4 linked regions of the Homo sapiens genome follow. The protein of the gene in region 4 interacts with the protein of the main gene of each other region in a pairwise test. Each region holds a gene or a part of one and is shown on either strand. Other genes may lie near its edges.

Region 1 (3,627 bases), on a different chromosome or scaffold from region 4:
TTAAATTCATAGTTTAAAATCTTCCAACAAAGAAAACTGCATTGAAGAATTCTACCTAACATTTAAAGAAGATGTAATACCAACTCTATACAAACTCATCCTGAAAGGAGGGCCCAATTCCCAGTTCATCTTATGAGACTATTATCCTGATACCAGTAGTAGACAAAGACAATATAAGAAACTGCAGACCAAGATTCCTCATGAAAATAGATGCAAAACATAAACGCAGAAAAGCAAAGATAGTTGCTACCTTGGTTGGATGGTATTGACTGGAAAGGAGCACAAAGGAACCTTCTGTATTGTTGGAAGTGTTTGTTATCACAATCTAGGTAGTTATTACACGGGTTTAAACACATGTAAAAACTCATCAAGCTGTTTAAGGTTAGAGCACTTCTTTCAGTTTGTTGTATATATGTCATACCTCAAAACATTTTTCAATGTTCAATCTACCAAGAAGGATGAATGAAAAGTGTCTCACATAGTTTAGTGTATGACACCTGACATGAAATTCTTTCTATGCTGATGCCCAAGAAATTCTGTCGACTAATGAAACAGTTTGGAAACTCTCCTCTATTCTGCTTAAAATAAAGTCACTGTTGGTTTATACAGCACTGTATCTTCTGGTTAACTCGGCCATTAGAGTGAGCACCAGCCCAGTTGAAAGTTCACAAGAAGCAAGTAAACACTGGATTTGATTTAGAATCAATAATAGCAGCAGGGTTTTCTCAGGCTGTTTAGAAGCATCGTGGCAATTGTTTGAGAAAATATAGGTAGTTCTAGTGAATGCGCTACAGAATGTTGGAAGTAGCGGTTAGCTTAGAGATTTTAAAATGTTAGAATCAAATAAAAAACAAAAATAAAATTTAGAATCTGTCTACAGCAGTGAAGATGACCTTCAAATTGTAAGTAAAATTAATATTTCTTAGAAGGAAAACCTCTCCAGTTAGTGAAATTACAACCAAAGAGAATAATATAATATAATCACAAAGAATGTTGCATTTTTGCCTCTTTCTTAGGGACCTTCTCAAATGATTCATGTGAGAAATTGCTTCTGCTGTACGAGTTTGAAGTTAGAGCCAAATTGAATGATCCATTACTGGAAAGCTTCCTGGAATCAGTGTGGGAGTTGCCTCATTTAGAAACTAAAACTTTTGAAACAATTGCAAGTAAGAGCTATATTTATGCTTTTGTAAGGCTGGTGCCCATTTAGATCGTATGACTTTTTTTCTTCTCTTTACTCTTCTTTCTTACCTCCAGGTAGGAAATAATTTTTTCTCATAGCACTTTGTTTCTCCTTCTCTAATGCCATTCTTAGACTATTTTGTATTATGATCATTTGTGCATTTATCTTCTTCACTCTATGAGATTATAATCTCTTTAGGGTCATAAACAATAATTACTTAATTTGTACTTACAAACCCTAGCGAAGTTCATTGCTCCTAATAGGTGCTCAAATTTTTTCTGTGTGGAATTTAATTATGTAACTACACAACAGGGGGAGCTCAAACTTTAGAAAGTTTTTCTGGGCTAGCTAGAAATAACTGAGTGCTTCAACAATCAAAAGTGATGCAATCTTAGCTGTTTGTTGAAATGTACAGAGAAATACTGGTAATATTTTTTAACACAATTGCCACTCTCAAATTTCAGGCCAAACTTTACGTGGGTTTGGGGGCATAGAGCCTTTTTGGGAGTACACTGCAGGAAACAGCCTAATTATCTTCCCTTTTTATCTCTCACCCTCTTCAGGAGCATGTGTGTGGTTAATAAAAATATTAGGTAGCTCCAAGTGCACAAGAGTCACATTTGCCTTTCCTTGGTCTTGCCAAGACAGAATTCCTAGAGCCATGGAGCAGATGATATATACTTTATGGACATGTGACAGCAACCACTGCTCCTTGTATAATGGAACTCCAATTCTAAAAATCTGTTAAATGCATCTGGAAGTCTTAGGGTTAGTTACCTCTGATACTCCCTTGTCAAGTGTTTCCTATTTTTAGTATCAGATAAAAATAGGACATTTTAGTACAAACCTGTTTCAATTAGTGCCCTTTTACTGATCTGCTTTCTGTTTCCTTCTTAGTGTGCCCTTCCTTGACTGTCATTCATAAGATTATTGCTTCACCTGTATGACTGTGTGCAAGGTCATACAAACAGTAGGTTTTCTGTTGATGTTTGCTGAAAAAAGGATGTTACCTGGTAATCCCACCATGCTACTCTGCCCAGAAAGTAGAAGCTATTTCCAAAAGCGACTGTAGATTTATCATTTATAAAATTCATTGTTGTTTATTTTTGTTCATCTGTTTCAGCCCAGTTTCATTAGAGAAAGCAAGTGGTAGCCTGGGATGAAAACTGTGATGGGTGACATTATCATGTTCACAACCTTTTTCCTTTTCTTACTCTAGTAATAGCAATGGAAAAGCCTGCACACTATCCTTTGATTGCTCTCAAGGCCTTGAAAAAGGCTTTATTGCTCTACAAAAAGGAAGAACCAATTGATATATCACAATACAGGTTAGTAAATACAATCCAGCCTTTTTGCTAGCCAAAAGAACTATAGTCAATGCCTCAAAAGTAACCAATCGTTCTTAATTGACTCAACTTTAAAGATGATATGGGGATGATCTGGGGGCATTCTTGTGAACAGCTCCATACTGAGAGTTGTATTACAGACCAATAATTATTTAGCAAAGTCAAGGAGCTTGGTTTTCCCAAAGGAGAAAAAAAAGGGGAAAAGTTGCTTCTTTGTGTGAATCTGTGTATATAATAAAACTGCTAAGTACCTTTCTTTCTTTGTTTCATCACTAAATAATATTCCAAATGTACAGAAAAGCACAGGGGTTAATATAACAAACACCAACGTATCCACCACCCAGATTTATTTGTTTTATTTTTAGAGATGGGGTCTCGTGATGTTGCCCAGGCTGGATTCAAACTCCTGGGCTCAAATGATTCTCCACCTCAGCTTCATGAGTAGCTGGGATTACAGGCACGCAGCACCCAGATTTAACAAATGTTAACATCTTGCTATGTTTGCCTCATTATTTTTCTAAGCACTTTAAGCACCGATAAGTGCTGTATAAAATATTATCTATTGGAGACTTTTTTGTTTTCTGTGTCCAGACATGGGGAAAAATAGATGTTGTGTGACTTTTTTTGTCTGGAAAACATCATTACAGTCTTCCTGTGTTAAGGCACGAAAGACAGTTCTTGTGGAATCATTCCACTTTAAACCCCAGTTCCCTTGCCCATTTGAGGAAGTACCGAGATGCTTTAAAATGCCTGTAAATTGAACCAGCTCATAAAATATAATAGACAGCCACAACTCCTTCGTGCAGGAAACTAAAAAAAGAATGAAAGACAACCATAGGCATGAAAAAAGAAAGGATTGGTCAACCTGTTTTACAGCTTCAAAAATCTGTCTTCTGAGGTTGGAGGCCAGATAAAACCGAGGGAAGAACAGAAGTGTTTTGAAGCTGTTAGTCTGGGATGAGATCCAGGTTTTACTTATCTTAGCCATGAAGCCAATGATTTCTTTCCTTATGGGATGAGTTTTCTCTTTTTGATTTTCAGCAAATGTATGCACAACTTGGTTAACCTCTCAGTGCCAGATGGGGCGTCGAATGTAGA
Region 2 (3,627 bases), about 25 Mb from region 4:
ATAATGATAGACAGCCCAGTGGAACATAATGGAGCAGAAACAAACCCACAGCATATGGTCTTCAGATTGACAACAGTAGAGTCTTAAAAGTATGGTCATTTCAATAAATGACGCTGGGTCAATTGAATATACATATGGGGAAAAACTGAAATTTGACCCCCTTCCTCATACCAAATGCAAAAATCAGTATAAGACAGGTTGTAGATTTAAATGTGAAGAGTAAAAATAAGGAACGTTTTAGAAAAAACACCTAAAGAGTATCTTCATGGCCTTGGGGTAGACAATGATTTTCTTAAACAGGAAACAAAAGCACTAACTATACAGTAAGAAAGTCGATAAGTTGGGCTACATTAAAATTAAGTTTCTATTTATGAAAAGACCACTAATAAAAGAATGAAAAGTCAAAGAATGGGAATAGATATTTACAATGCATATATCTAACAAAGGACTCTTATCCAAAATATATTATTTTTCTACATTGTATGTATATATCCGAAAAAACACAGAGCCGAACAGATACTTGAGCAAAAAAGTTGAATTGGTCAATAAACATGAAGTGATTTACCACTTTATCAATCTTAAGGGAAATGCAGATTTAAATGGTAGTATCATACCATCTGACACCCACCAGTTGATTAAAATGAAAAATAAGGAAAATAGCAAACATACTTTAACTCTCATTTAGTACTTACAGAACAACCAATTATGAAAACTGGTATCTATTAATACTGGGCATATGTATAAACTACGACCCAGAAATCTCACTTATAGGTATTTATCCCAAAGAATTGTTTACATGTGTACAAAATGTAGTACTGCTCCTAATAGCTAACAATGATAACCCAAATGCCATTAACAGTGGAATATGTTCATTTTGGGAAAGTCATCTAGCTCTGCACTAGTAATTAGTTTTTTTACTTTTATATGTGTACATTAAAAGAAAACTAATGTACATGGAAAGCTATCTGCTTCTATGTTTATAACGGACATATGGTAAGATACACAAACAATTGGTAACATTGCTTGCCTACAGGGTTTGTCTTTTGAACCATGTGAATGTATTACCTATTCAAAAATAAATATAGTCATGCATTACATAATGACATTTTAGTCAATGACAGACACAGACTTCTTATTGCCTATGACATTATGGCCATTCTAACATGGTGGTGCAATGCATCACATGTGTTTGTGGTGATGCTGGTGTAAACAAACCTACTGAGCTGCCAGCTGTATAAAACTATAACACATATTAAGATTGTATACAGTACATAGTATTTTGATAAACGTGTTACCACTTATTCTTTGTTATTTTAGAGTGTACTTCTACTTATAAAAAAGTTAACTGTAAAACAGCCAGGCAGGTCTTTCAGGAGGTATTCCAGAAGAAGGTATTGTTGTTATTAGAGATGACAGCTCCCTGTGTGTTACTGCCCCTGAAGACCTTCCAGTGGGACAACATGTGGAGGTGGAAGTGGTGTTGATTACCCTGGCCCTGTGTAGACCTGGGCTAATGTCTGTGTTTGTGTCTTTGTTTTTAACAAAAAAAGTTTAAAAAGAAAAAGCCTACATTTTAAAAATAGAAAAAACTGATAGACTACAGATGTAAATAAAGTATTTTTGTATAGCTGTACAGTGTGTTTCTCTTACTACAAAAGAGTCAAAAACTTTAAAAATGGATAGGTTTATAAAGTTAAAAAGTTCTGCTAAGCTAAGGTTAATTTATTAGAGAAATTTTAAAAAATAGTGTAGCTTAAGCATACAGTCTTTATGAAATATACAGCAATATACAGTAATGTCCTAGGCCTTTACATTCACTCACTACTCAGTCATTAACTCACCCAGAGCAACTTCCAGTCCTGCATGTTTTGTTTATGGTAAGTGTCCTATACAGGTGTACCGTTTTTGATCTTTTATACTGTATTTTTCTATGTTTAGATACACAAGTACTTACAATTGTGTTATAGTTGCCTACAGTATTTAGTACAGTAATATTCTGTACAGTTTTGTAGCCCACGGGCAATAAAGGGACGTAGTAGGCTCTACCATCTAGGTTTGTGTAAGTACACTCTTACGATGTTCACACAACGGAATTAATGATGCATTAAGCAACATATGCATCACTAAGTGACACATGACTGTACTACAGTTTATTAAAGATTATCATTTGTTATAGTAAATGCTAATGGACTGGATTCTTTTAAATTCAGATACTATCAAGTTGATTAAAACACAAATCCCAATTATATATCATTTGTAAGAAACAGACTTTTAAAAAGTTGGAAATAGAGAGACAAGGAGATCTTAAGAAATTTTTTTTTTTTTAGTGATAAGTTGGTAGTATGTGAAATGAGGTGGAATTTATCTTAACATCTAATAAACTGGTTGATGGGGGATGTTATGGTATAAGGCCCAGTTTATAAAGTAGAGGAAAAATGGGGTACAGTAGGAGAGCTAAGGGTCATAATGCCAACCGTATGCAAACAGTGTGGAAATAACCATCCTGAAGGTTTTATATTCTATGCTACAGTATCCTTTATAGCGGTTATTGAATTTTAGGATTATAACAAGTATTACTAATTCTAATTTTATTTTTTAGGGTTTTTTTGGTCATTTATAAACAAAACAGGTTTCTGTTTAAAAATAATTTAAGTACTATGGAAGGAGTGGGAGGAGTTTAACGTTGGCTGAAGTTGACCTTCCCTCTGAGGTTCTCACAGTCCTGCTTATCAGGAGTAACCACCATTAATAAGTTTATTTTATAATCTTCTAGAACCTATTCACACATTTGAAAAATAATATTGAAAGAAAAAACTTAAGTTTTGTTTTAGAATATTTTCTTTAAAATATGTAGCATTTTCAGCTTCATCATACACTTGCTTTGTATATTAAAGTTCTGTGAAATTGATGTTTAATGAACACTTTATATTGCACAGGTTTTAGAATTACTTCTTGCCTTCTGTTCAGTGACTCAGCTGCGCCATATGCTCACTCAGATGATGTTTGAACAGTCTCCACCTGGCAGCGCCACTCTGGGAAGCCATACTAAATGTTTAGAACCTACTGTGGCTCTACTGCGCTGGTTAAGCCAACCTTTGGACGGATCAGAAAACTGTTCTGTTTTAGCATTGGAGTTGTTCAAGGAAATATTTGAGGTAATAGGATGACTGACAGATTGACTTTTCTACTTTTGTGACTCTCAGTTAACAATTTGTCTTCAAAAACATTCTTTGTAAACTTACAGTTCATACACTTGAGGAAAACATCTCAATTACTAACAGTCATACTAGACTCGCTAGGTTTTTTTCTGCCAGTCATATATATTAGTGTTTTCCTTTTTTTTCACTGAGTAGTGTGTATGTATATATATATATAGTGCTCATTTCAGTGTAATAAGTAAAGATATTAAAAAGATTTATATAATTTGTTGCCTGACTACTGGGGATAGTTACATTGTCTCTCCATTGCAATAGATGCCATCTACCAAGTTTAGTAGGCCATTGAATGGACAATAGAGGCATATTGGATTCAGTCAGTGAAATGGAGTAGAGCATGCCAGATAATGTGCTAGGCACTTAAGATACAGACAAAACTCCACATTCTGGTAGATCTTACTATCTGGGCAAT
Region 3 (3,627 bases), about 110 Mb from region 4:
TGTATTATTGCTTTTAGTGGTGGAGAGAAAACAGTAAATAAATCGTTAGGTCATGATTTAACTTCAGAATTTTTAATGAGTAGAAAACTTCCTTTTTATATTTTGCTCAAGATAATAAGGCTTCTTTACTTTTTCTGAGGTGATTCCTAACTAATTGGTCAAAATAGGCATTATGGAAGCATTTAGGTGGACAGGCAAATGCTTATCTGTGTTTATGGGTGTGAGTGTATGTGTAGTGTTTTAATGAGAGAAAAGAAATAATGAAATTTTGAAAGCTTGAAATTTGATTTTCATGGCAATGTGAATGTATATACGACAGTTTTCTAAATCTGTAAGGGCACCAGTGTGATTGCAGATTGGTTGTTACCTGAGAGATTAAAACCGTCATAAGAACAAATTTAATCAGTGTGTATACTTCTTGTTTCGTATTTTTTTTGTGTATGGAATTTTTAAGGTCACTTAATTGATTCACTATCATTTTTTAATACACACATCTATACATTTAGACATATTTGGTACATATTCTATATGTATACGTACTCATTTTTGACAGTGTGTCAAAAGAGTTGTGTAAACATATTTATTTACATCCAAGTAGCTATTTTAAAAGTTTGTGCTATGGTGTTAGGGAAGAACGCATTACACTAATTTGAGTGCAAGAGTAAACTGAAGGTAAGCCTGTCTGCCTTTTAAATTAGTCTTCAAAAATTTATTTAAAAATAGGAATACTTACTATTCTTTTAGATTTAAACATTATTACTGATATTCCTGAAATGGTTAATAGTATTATTTGTGTAGGTACTAAAATAATACAGTGGGACATTTTCATATCTCATTTTAAAATAAATTGGCAGCATGTATTTTTGAATTGGTCAGTTATGTTTTAAATATTTAGCATTTGGGACTTTTAATTTTTACTACTTTATGCACTTCTGTGTTATTTCACCACATAGTTAACATTTTTGGTGTATAACTGATACATTTTATTTTTAGCTGTTTGTATATTGTGGATTATTTGGTCACAAAATAGTAACATAAGATCAATTGTCTAGCTAAAGGGAAGTCATCAGTTAAAAGAGTCAAAGTTTACTGAGAGATCTTTATAACATCTCTTTACTAAAAGAAGGCTTTGCAATTTTTAGATTCAGCTAAATTTGACAGTAATGAAGAAGATTCTGCTTCTGTTTTTTCACCATCATTTGGTCTGAAACAGACAGATAAAGTTCCAAGTAAAACGGTAGCTGCTAAAAAGGGTATGTACTTATATTTGATTGAGTTAAGCATTGGATAGAGATAGTTAATGTAAAAGGAAATGTAATTTAATTTGAAACTATTTGCATTTTTTTATCATAAAACAATTAAGAAGTATAAGTGCTTATAAGGAGAACCTCTCGTTTTCTAGCCATCTGAGGGCGTTAATAAAATTTCTGTAAGACTTAATTTTAAAGCTGTTGTAATTATAAAATAATCCCGTGCATTACTATCTAAAGATAGCTTTCTACAAAAGCTCCCTTGTGGTTAGGTTGTAATGGAGATTAAAATTTTGTCTTGCTAGTAGCTTGCTTCTGTTATCTATGTTGATCATGACTCAACTCCTTATGTGGAGGGATTGGTCAGCTCAGTTGAGGTCCTCTTTTTCTATGTGAGTCATGCAGCTTCTCTCTTTTTCACAGCCTTAGATTGGCCACAAAACACTTTGAGTTGATTAATGAATCTCTTACTAGTACCAAGATATATGTACCGTGGTCTTTTTGAAAGAGGTCAGTATTTGTGCTTTGTGTTTGAAGGATGACACTTAAAAAAAACCCCACAAATCTAATTGAGATGTGTGCTATTTAAGACAGCAAGTAAATAATATGGATTGTTCCCTCAAGGATTTTAAAAATTCACAACAGACAACATCATTACAGACACATGTATTGAATGTAGCAGAACAACAATTTTGAAAAGTCCTGCTTATTCTGAATGCAGTAGAACCATATTGAGAAACTGGTTATTTACAAGAGTCTCTGTAGCCAACACACTGGGTGACCTACCCATGTCCCTTACCACTTAGTGCATATTGGGCAATATCTGCCTTTCGTTGCCTGAGGACTTCCTCTTTGCCACTGTGCTGGAATATTAACACCCCCCTGCTCCCAGCTGCCTTTAACTAGCAGATTGAGGAAAGTTGGTCTATAAATATCTCAGTGTCCTTGCCTCTCATGTGAGCCAACTGTGGGATGTGTGTTTCACACTGGGACTCAAAAATTTCTTATGGAATTAAGCTCCTAGAGTGATGATTGGCTTGGTAACTTACCTATTACTGGCTGCCTTCTCTTCATTGTCTCATTTTTGTCTCCCCCTCCTTTATCTCTCAAATAAATACTTATACTTGAATCCATACTCTAGGATTAGGCAGATTGGCCCAAATCTGGGGAACCCACATTGAGATGGACCCTATAATTTCTCTTTTTTAAAAAAACAATCAGGCTGGGCGCAGTGGCTCACACCTGTAATCCCAGAACTCTGGGAGGTCGAGGCAGGCAGATTGCTTGAGGTCAAGAGTTTAAGACCAGCCTGGCCAACATGGCAAAACCCCATCTCTACTAAAAATACAAAAATTAGCCTGGTGTGGTGGCGTATGCATGCCTGTAGTCCCAGCTACTCAGGAAGCTGAGGCACAAGAATCGCTTGAACTTGGGAGGCAGAGGTTGCAGTGAGCTGAGATGGCACCACTGCACTCCAGCCTGGACGGTAGAGTGAGACTCCATCTCAAATAACAACAACAGAACAATCAAAAAGCACCTTTAAAAAATAATCTTCATATGAGCATCTTATAAACACCCTGAAAACTTGGGAGCCGTATTACTTCCTGAAACATACCCCGTTTCCTTCATCAAACTGTTCACCCATATTTAACCTAATGAGTTTAGCATGACCAAAAAGCTAGATTATCATGGTACCTATCCTACTTGCTTCCTTCTTCAGTAGCTGAACTGGCCTTGTCTAAGTTGAATAGGTAGACTGCCTGTGTGGTGTGATTTCAGGGACCCCAGCAAGTCCTCAGCTTTCCTTTAGCCTCCCTTACGAAATATAATTCCAATAAAATATCATTTCAAGAAGAGGATGCATCATATCCCTCTGTGGGATTGTCTATGTTAACTCCAAATTGCGTATGTTACACAAGTTAAATTCTGTAGTTCCAATAGTTTACAGCAGAAAGGCAGCTATAGTACTCAGATATCTGACCTGTTTGCCTGGTAGAATTGAAAGTGCCATGTAACTCCAAGCCAAGGAAAAAAAGTGGTTCCTAGAACACCTGGCTAAGTTTATACTCCCTGCTAGGAGCTGCCCTGTGGTTCTTGTGGTAGATATAGTCATGAAGACTCAGGTGGGAAAAGCCACACAATCTGGGTGCCACTTTCCTAGGGCTCCTCCTGCTCTTGGCTAACGAGGGGCCTTATTTGTAGTGTCTCAAATTGCGACTGGAATACATTTTCCATAGAATCAGTGTAGGTTTTTTTTTTTTTTTAAACAAAGTCTACAGTTAATATATTTTCTTCCAAATTAGGTTTTCTTAATTACAAAAAGTGATTTATCAGTTTTTTTTTTTTCTTTTTCTTTTTTTTTTTTTGAGACAGAGTC
Region 4 (3,627 bases):
ACTGTTAACTCTGGGACCACTGCCTATAAACCTTACCTTCACATCAAAGGAAGGCTTGAAGAGTTTGTCCTTGGACAGGAATTTTGATGGTGTATCCAGGTGTAACGAGGGCTCCTTCTGAAGTGGTTGTCCTACTGCTGGGGAGGCTGCGACCTGTCTGGCATGTTGTGAGACCACAGCACGGAAAGCTTTACTCTGAAAGCGGTTCATATCTAAAGGTGTAACGACGGTTTTTCTGTGAGTTTGCAGGCGTGTGCCAGGATGCTCTGCAGTATCTGAATTTAGATTGATTCCATTTGTTATTTCTGTTTCCAAACTTCGTTCTAGAGATTTAAAATGAAAAGAAACAAATATGAGCCACTAATGCCCACTTTTTCCCGGTACACAAGAAGTAATATTTTATACTGTTTTCTTTCCTTTCTTTCTTGCATAACTCCTGGGCTCAAGAGATCCATCTACCTCGGCATCCTAATCTGTTAGTTTTCATGTCAATTCTCAGGTACACTTTAAATCACAAAATTATATACCTACTTTCCAAGAAACAAACCAGATTATGCATTAAATATATGTTGAGTTAGACAAGCACATTAACTGAAAAAATAATAATAGATTTCCTGTTTCATCTTGCTATGTCTCAATAAGCCTATTTGCCAAAAATTGTTATCAGTGAATGTCTTTCTAGTCAATGACAGAGTAAAAAGAAAAATCTCAATTACAGGTACTCAGAGTTAACTACAGTCTAGTTTTGGAAAGTCCTTAATCAAATTTTAATATGACCTGAACATCACTTAGCCTCAGTCATAAAATTACCAGTCTGTCTGGCAAAATAAGTAATGACTCTGAGAGGTATTCCCAAGCTGCTGATATGTCCCTGAAGTTTGCCCATGGATGCTATTATCTTACAAGAGAGGGTACTGTATTCTTCCACCTATGCCTTCCACCTTTTTTCAACATTTAACAAAAAACCTTATTAGATAGCTACTCCATGCCAGGCCTAGTGTTAGACATGGGAAATACAGAATTCACAAGACATGCATGTTCACTGCCTTTCTGGAACTTTAAATTTAGCAGGAAGACACAAAATAAACAACCATTATAACACTGAGGTAAGAGATAAAAGGGATGATACAGAGTGTCATGGTGAAACAAAAAACATTATACCAAGACAAAGGCCATCCTTGGTGAGTCAAGAATGCTTCCCAAGACAGTGTGGCGATTCCTCAAAGATCTAGAACTAGAAATACCATTTGACCCAGCGATCCCATTACTGGGTATATACCCAAAGGATTACAAATCATGCTACTATAAAGACACATGTACACATATGTTTATTGCAGCACTATTCACAATAGCAAAGACTTGGAACCAACCCAAATGTCTATCAATGATAGACTGGATTAAGAAAATGTGGCACATATACACCATGGAATACTATGCAGCCAGAAAAAAGGATGAATTCATGTCCTTTGTCGGGACATGGATGAAGCTGGAAACCATCATTCTGAGGAAACTATCACAAGGACAGAAAACCAAACACCGCATGTTCTCACTCATAGATGGGAATTGAACAGACACAGGGCAGGGAACATCACACACCGGGGCCTGTCGTAGGATGGGGGGATGGGGGAGGGATAGTATTAGGAGAAATACCTAATGTAAATGACGAATTAATGGGTGCAGCAAACCAACATGACACATGTATACATATGTAACAAACCCGCATATTGTGCACATGTACCCCAGAACTTAAAGTGTAATAATAATTAAAAAGAAAAAATGAAAGGCTTCCCAGGGAAAGTGGTATCTTAGCTGAGAACTGAAAGATAAGCAGGAAGAGCAGGCAACTGTGAGGTGGTCTACAGGAAACATGCAGAAGCCCAAAGATAAGAGGAGAGATAGCATGTTAATTATATAGTGTGTTACTATGAGCCATAGAAAGAATCAACAGTAAATAGGAGCCAAGCTTACATCTGTAGACTTCGAACACTGAGACCCTCACTGCACCCAATGTGAAAAGCAAAAATCAATGACCCTTCCTAAACACAAGCATTGGCACATTTATATCCCAGAAACCATCTAGTTGTAAATATATATAAAAGAACAGAATAAAAGTATTAACCTTCTTTAGTTGAATTTTCAATCAGAAAATGGCTTTCGTCTGCTCTCTTTCCCGTTCTAGCAGTCTCCAACAGCCAAGCTATAGTAACGGCAGGTAAATTCCACTTCTTTGCAGCTTCATATTTAGAGCCACCACGTTCTTTCAGTATAAGATGAGTACTGGCAAACATGCCTTTCTTTGCATTGGATTTGCGAACAAAGTATTCTTGAACACTGAAATTTATGTTTAAAGAAGTGGAAATGGTCACATATACAATTAACCCGCAAAACTAACAAAATTTCCAACACAACAGTGTGGTTAGAGATCATGTAAGTATAAAAAAAAATACTGATTAAAAGTTGGTTTACTCTATCTGAAATTAAGCTAATCCCCTTACAAATGCTTACTCTAGGGTAAAAATGTATTGCTGTAACAAACTTTTTATAAAAACATAATTAGACATGCAAAGAACAGACAGCAAAAATCCTTTTGAGACAGGGTCTTGCTATGTTGTCCAGACTGGAGTGCAGTGGCACAATCACAGCTCACTGCAACCTCCGCCTCCCAGGCTCAAGCCATCCTCCCACCTCAGCCTCCCCAGTACCTAAGACTACAGGTGTACACCACCACACCTGGCTAATTTTTGTATTTTTTGTAGAGATGGGGTTTCACAATGTTGCCTAGCCTGGTCTCGAACTCCTGAGCTCAAGTGATCCTCCTGCCTCAGCCTCCTAAAGTTGGGATTACAGGCGTGAACCACCTCACACAGCCAAAATTACCTCCTTAATTAGTTATCACCCCCACACCTTGTCCTTTCCTCCCAAAAGAAGGCACAGAAAAAATGACAGGAGCAAAGTGTATAAATAACATTATTATTATTTTTTAACCTACTACAACTTTCCAAAGCATTTCTACATATTATCTCATTTGATCCTCTCAATATTTAAGTATAGACATGGGAAAAAATACAGAGAAATTAAGTGCCTCAAGATCATAGGATATTAAACACAGAGAATACGGGGCAGAAAAAGAAGTCTACGACTTGAGATTGAACAGAATTCCGTGATTTCTTTTATGACTTCTGGGTTTTATGTTCTAGTTCCCAACTTTTCAGATTTTTAAATTTCCCATGTTTCCTAGCACTTTTTTTTTCTATGTTTTGTGTTTATCTTAGTACTTTTATAATTTCATTTTTTACATTTAACCCACCAATCCATTCAGTACTTATTTAGATATGAGATACTGCTCCAACTTTAATGAATCCTATTTATTGAATAAGCCATGTCTTCCTTATATATATTTGAAATGTCACTTGTATCGTAAATTCCTTTTTACATTTGGGTCTCCTGCTACATTTGCTGTCCATTAATTAAACTTTCTGCTACACGTAACCACACTGTTATTTAGTGAAGTTTCACAAAATATATATTTGTTTGTTTGTTTTCTGAGACAGGGTCTTGCTCTGTCCTCCAGGCTAGAGTACAGTGGCGCCACTGTGACTCACTGCAGCCTTGACCTCCCAGGCTCAA

The links.
Region 1: the proteins of TOPBP1 (region 4) and TEX11 interact in a two-hybrid assay, tested with the Homo sapiens proteins (one large-scale study listed by BioGRID).
Region 2: the proteins of TOPBP1 (region 4) and CIP2A interact in a two-hybrid assay, tested with the Homo sapiens proteins (2 studies listed by BioGRID).
Region 3: the proteins of TOPBP1 (region 4) and TOP2B interact in a two-hybrid assay, tested with the Homo sapiens proteins (one study listed by BioGRID).

What each region holds. Positions count from the first base shown.
Region 1 is NC_000023.11:70,552,190-70,555,816, reverse strand, and holds part of TEX11 (testis-expressed protein 11), read left to right. Parts: intron 1-1,016; coding exon 1,017-1,166; intron 1,167-2,402; coding exon 2,403-2,511; intron 2,512-3,570; coding exon 3,571-3,627. UniProt on the Homo sapiens protein: Regulator of crossing-over during meiosis. Involved in initiation and/or maintenance of chromosome synapsis and formation of crossovers.
Region 2 is NC_000003.12:108,568,917-108,572,543, reverse strand, and holds part of CIP2A (protein CIP2A), read left to right. Parts: intron 1-2,936; coding exon 2,937-3,155; intron 3,156-3,627.
Region 3 is NC_000003.12:25,602,386-25,606,012, reverse strand, and holds part of TOP2B (DNA topoisomerase 2-beta), read left to right. Parts: intron 1-1,142; coding exon 1,143-1,253; intron 1,254-3,627. UniProt on the Homo sapiens protein: Key decatenating enzyme that alters DNA topology by binding to two double-stranded DNA molecules, generating a double-stranded break in one of the strands, passing the intact strand through the broken strand, and religating the broken strand.
Region 4 is NC_000003.12:133,637,840-133,641,466, forward strand, and holds part of TOPBP1 (DNA topoisomerase 2-binding protein 1), read right to left. Parts: intron 2,332-3,627; coding exon 2,120-2,331; intron 324-2,119; coding exon 37-323; intron 1-36. UniProt on the Homo sapiens protein: Scaffold protein that acts as a key protein-protein adapter in DNA replication and DNA repair. Composed of multiple BRCT domains, which specifically recognize and bind phosphorylated proteins, bringing proteins together into functional combinations.